Linked DNA regions of Homo sapiens: region 2 is linked to region 1. The links come from fine-mapping of genetic effects on gene expression. A gene starts in region 1. The other region holds a variant in brackets. All regions are shown on one strand. Distances are between the middles of the regions.

Region 1 (2,864 bases):
CCAGTCCATCCTGTTGCTCCTCCATAGAGGCTGTAATTATTTCCTGTTTCTTCCATTTCAAGAGACGCTCCTCTCCATGCCTGTTATTCAAGGCTCCCAGTCCCCCATTCAGGTTGTCTTTCCAGTCTTCTCACCCTTCTCCACACATCTCTACTCCAGCCCAGCCCAGCCCATCTCCTCCCCACCCACTGCCCTATGCTTCCAGAGCTGACTTCTGCCCCTCTTTACACCTCGCCCACAGGGAGGCTTGTCAAGGCTGCACTCCCTCCCCGCCTCCTAGAAGACCTCAGCCCATCTCAACCTCCCTTTTCCTTTCACATTCACTGCCTGTATTGTATAATTAGCACCTTACTAAATGCCTGGCTTATGACTACACAACTTAGCACGTTGCCCCCTCGCATATTCTGCTATGTAGCTTCATGGCCAGCTTGTTATTTTCGTAGGCCTATTTTGTCTACCCACTTAGAATATAAGCCCTTGTCAGCTGATACCACCTCTTCTGTTTTTATTTTGTTTTGTTTTTATGTTTCTTCCTGCGGCCTAGTTCTATGCTGGATGCATTATCCTTTGAAATAAAACCTTGCTGTTTGGTTGATTGTCATTTGCAGTGCCTGAAAAAACCTTCAGGAAAGCCAAGAAATCCAATAGCAAAGGAAGCTTAGCAGGAAACCCTGCTTCTCCCAGGCATAACCACCCTCTCAGCACTTAACCTCTCCCCAGCAACCCTGGGCACATCTCCATCCTCAGATAGTTCAGAAGGCAACATAAAAACTAATTTATACCACAGTTTTTAAATATTTGTGTTCCCCTCCCTCAGAAATATTTGACTCTGATTTTTAATATAGAAGAAATAAATTTAACAAAAAATCAGTCTCTAGTGGTAGAACCTCTGGAATCTGTGAAAAAGACATTTTCAATTCACAGAGAACTTATAATGTTTTCCTGGAAAGTTCCTGAAAGGCAACAGAAAAGAAGCTGGAGCAGGAATGAGCTTCTAAAAGCAAACTGGCAATGCCTCCTGCCCAGCCCTTCTTCTTCTCCTGCTCCTTCTTGTGCTGGCCAGTCAGGCTCCTCCAACCCCGGAAGTCTGCAAAGTCCTTCATCTGCCACCAAAAACAGAACCCCACCTCATTCTCAGAGATTGTCCTTTCTTAAATAAGAGTACACAGGACTCTAAAAGTTGCAATTTCTTTCTCTCAAGCAGCTGTGGCATGCTCTTGGAGTCTTCCCTACACAAGCACCCAAGTCTCCAACCAAGCTTAGCCTTGTTTTTCCTCCCTGCTGCTCTGCTGGGTTTCAGGCCTTACCTGAGGCGAGGGGAGCCTGCCTCAGCCCCTGGGCCCAGATCAGGAGGAGACACCAGCGCATGCTTCTGCCCAGAGGGCCTACAGGAAGCAGATGTGGCCTCTTCTGCCACTGAAAGTAGCCGACTGCAGATAGGACGGTAAAACTGAGCCTCTGAGAAAAGACGGTCTCGGAAAAACCAAGTTTGGCAAAAACCATATTAAAAACACATAAAGTTGTCAACAAATACACAAACTGCATAGGGTGAGCCACAAGAAAGGCCATGAAGGAAACATTTAAAAATAAATGAAAATTGTGGTTAGAGGTACACTCGTCTTTGGATTATAGTCAATCTATTGTTTTTAAGTTCTGTCTTAATGTTTTTTCTAAAAATCAGCCTTTATTCAAAGAGCTCAAGGGCATCTGTGTAGTGCCCAAGATTCTGAAGAATCTGCTACTGATGAGGAACTGTTGGCTGAGCTCCTCTGGCATCCTCCTGATGAAGAATGTGCAATGATAAGAGAAGCTTATCATTGTAGGGACTTACAGGCCAGGGACTGCACTTGAAATCTAATGAACAGGTGAACAAGAAGTGTTTACTTGGGGGATGATACATGGATGGGACAAAGGTCTTGGACAAACACAGCAACTTTCCCTTGAAGGAGATCTTCTACTCGAATCTTATTTCTTTTGTCTTGTTTATCTGGACTGAGACTTTATTGAATTCTGGCTTGATTTCTCTGGTGCAGTAGGATCAGAGGAGATTAGAGGAGAGAGCTTTCCTGTGCACAATGACCTCATGAGAGCTGGAAATGCAAAGAAGGGTGAGCCCCTGGGAGCTGACCCAGGAGAGGGATTGGTTGACATTTGCCTGGAGCTCCCAGCCCATCACCAGGTCCTACTATGGACCCATCCTTCTTTCCTCCCTCCCTCCCTTCATTCATTTGAAAGTCCCTGGGTGCCTACAAAGCACCAACCTCAACACCAGGCTCTGAGGATATGAGAGTAAATAATCACAGCCCCTACCCTCAAATAGTTTACAAAGCTTGTTCCTTGGTGAACTCAGTCAGGAGAGGGGGTAGAAGATCCACATTCACCTGCCTCGCAGGCTCTCAACACAGTTGCCTTGGGGATGCTCCATGTTGTACATCCTGAAAATCTGCATCTGCACCCAGAAGCATCTGAAGCCTGGTGCCCCACCCCCTCCATTCCAGCCATGCACCTCTAGCATTTCACACCATCCAGGCTCCTACCCTCCTTCTCCCTTGCAAGGTCTTCTATCTCAGGCCAGTTTTCTCCCCTCTCTGGGTTCTGCCTATCCCCAACTCTATGACTTGTATACCCCTTATACCCCACCTCCAGACCCTTAGACAATATACGCCTTACCAGCTTCTCTCTGCCTACCCAAAGCAACCTGTCCTTCAAGGCTCACATCAAGAGATGCCTTGCCTTTCAATAGCTACAAAGCCTTCAGCTGAAGGAGAAATAATACCTAATGTGTGTCCAAGGGAAGGTGCCAAGGTTGAACTGGAGGGATGTTTCCCAAACTCACTAAGGCCGGGGAGCCAGGAGTGGCAGGG
Region 2 (2,917 bases), 110 kb after region 1:
AATAACTAAAATTTTAAACTTCACTAGACAGATTTAAAGGCAGATTTAAGCAGGCAAGAAAGAAATCAGCAAACTTGCAGATACAATGAAAATTATCAGTCTGAGGAACAAAAAGAAAAACGATTGAAGAAAAGTGAACAGAGCCTAAAAGACATAGGAGACACCATCAAGTGAACCAACTAACACACTGTGACAGCACCAGAAAGAGAAGGGCTAGATAAAGGGTAAGGAGAATATTTGAAGAAATAATGGCAGAAAAGTTTCTAAATCTGATGAAAGACATAAACATCCAAGAAGCACAATGAACTTCAAGATGAACCCACACCAAGACTCACTATAATCAAACTTCTGAAATATAAGGACAGTGAATTATGAAAGCGCAAAAAAAGAACTGATTCATCATATGCAAGGGCTCTTTGGTAAGAATATTAACAAATTTCTCATGAGAAACTTTGGCCCATCAGGTAGTGGGACAACGTATTCAAAATGCTAAAAGAAAAAAATACCTGTCAACCAAGAATTTTATATCAGAACAATTGTCCTTCAAAAGTGAAGGAGGTCAGTTGCAGTGACTCACACATATAATCCCAACATTTTGGGAGGCCAGGGTGGGCAGATCACTTGAATTCAGGAGTTCGAGACCAGCCTGGCCAACATGGCAATACCCTGTCTTTACTAAAAATGCAAAAAATTAGCCAGATATGGTGACATGCACCTGTAGTCCCAGCTACTTGGGGGACTGAAGCAGGAAAAGAAGGAGAACATAAGACATTGCCAGATAAACAAAAGCTGAGGAGCATTACCACATTACCACTAGACTTTCCCTGCAAGAAATATTCAAGGGAGTCCTACAAGGTGAAATGAAAGGACATTAGACAGTAACTTGAAGCTGTATGAAGAAACAAAGAGCTCAATAAATGCAAGGACCTTTATAAAAGCTAGTAGTATTTTGCTATCTACATAATTTAAGAGACTAATACATTTAAAAGAAAACAATCATTAGTCTAAAAGCTAACATTATTGTAACTTTGGTTTGTGGCTCCATGTTTTGTTTTTTATATAATTTAAGAGACTAACGCATTTAAAATAATTATTAGTTTATGTTTGGTGTTACACAATATATAAAGGTATAATTTTATGACATTAACAACCAAAAAGAGTGAAGAAAGAATAGTAGAGGACCAGATATTTTATGTTATTGAAGTTAGACTGGTATAAACTCCAGTTAGAGTATTATAACTTTAGGATGTTAAATGTAATCTCCACTGCAACCAAAAAGAAATAGTTAAGGAATATAAACAAAAGGAAATAAGAAAGGAGATTAAACATTTCACCACAAAACATCAACTAAACACACACAAAAAAGAGTCATGCAGAGTGAGATGTGGGAAAGCTATAAGGCATATAGAAAACAAATAGCAAACAACAGAAGTAAGTCCTTCTTTATCAGTAATTTCTTTAAATGTAAATGGATTAAACTACCCAATCAAAAAACAGAGATCAGCAGAATGGATAAAA[A/C]ACACATGATTGCTGGATATACTGTCTACAAGAAACTAACTTTAGATCCAAAGACACACACAAAAATAATAAAAAAGAGAAAAAGAAAACAAAGATACAATAGGTTGAAAGTGAAAAGATGGAAAAGGATATTCATGCAAATAGTAACCAAAAGAGAGCAGGAATGGCTAGACAAATATCAGACAAAAATGAATTTAAGTCAAAAAATTATGAAATAAAAAAGGGTATTATATATTAATAAAATATTTAATACAACAAGAAAATAGAGCAATTTTAAACATTAACATGCCTCATAACAGACGATCAAAATACATGAAGCAAAAACTGGTAGAATTAAAGAGAAAAATATACAATTCTACATTAATAGTTGGAAACTTTAACATTCCACCTTCAATCACAGATAGAACCACCAGACAGAAAATAAGTAAGAAAATAGAGGATATAAACAACACAATAAACCCACTAGACCTAAAAGACATATACAGAACACTCTACCCAACAACAATGATATGCACATTCTTTTCAAGTACACATGGGACATTTTCCAGGATGGGCCATATGTTAGGCCACAAATTGTGTCTCAATAGATTTTAAAAGACAAATGTCATACAAAGTCTTCCCTGATCATAATGGGAGGAAATTAGAAATCAATAACAGAGTAAAACTGGAAAACTCACATATTTGTAGAAATTAAACAACACACTTTTAAAGAATCAGTGGATCAAAGAATAAATTACAATGGAGGCATAATGCTCTTGAGGATGTGAAGATATTGGAACACTCATGCACTATTGATGGGAATGTAAAATGATACAGCTGCTGTGGAAAACAGTATGGTAGTACCTCAAAAAATTAGAAACAGAATTACCACATGAACCAGCAATTCCATTTCTGGATATATATCTAAAAGAGCTGAAAACAGGATCTCAAAAAGATATCTGAACACCTATGTTCATAGCAGTGTCATGCACAATAGCTAAAATGTGAAAGTAATTTAAGTGTCATCCATAGATGAACAGAAAAGCAAAATGTGGTACAATTGAATATTATTCAGCCTTGAAAAGAAAGAAAATTCTGACATATACTTCAATATCAATGAATTTTGAGAACATTATGCTAAGTGAAATAAGCCAGTCTGAAAAAGACAAATATAGTAGGATTCCACTTATATGAGGTACTTAGAGAATCGCTTAAACCTGGTAGGCTGAGGTTGCAGGGAGCCGAGATTGCACCACTGCACTGCAGCCTGGGTGACAGACGGAGACTCTGTCTCAAAAAACAGAAAAAGAAAAAAAGAAAAAATTAGATGATGATGGAGGGTAGTAAAAAACAGGAAGAAAATAGGTCGAAAAGTTAAGATAGAAGTAGAAAAGGGAGGTAACATGCAAGCACACAGAAG

The links. PIP is the estimated chance that this variant, and not a neighbour inherited with it, causes the effect.
Region 2: its variant is the best candidate, but not a certain one, in a credible set for the expression of TIGIT in whole blood (INTERVAL, PIP 0.81).

What each region holds. Positions count from the first base shown.
Region 1 is chr3:114,292,566-114,295,429 of GRCh38, reverse strand. It overlaps TIGIT (T cell immunoreceptor with Ig and ITIM domains), which reads right to left and starts at 1,402. Exons shown (of 4, transcript NM_173799.4): 1 at 1,308-1,402. The coding sequence starts at 1,368.
Region 2 is chr3:114,182,504-114,185,420 of GRCh38, reverse strand. It overlaps a transcript of DRD3 not described here. Among named protein-coding and RNA genes, the nearest start is that of DRD3, 4.9 kb to the right of the region's middle. The variant A/C (reference allele first, on the strand shown) is at 1,519.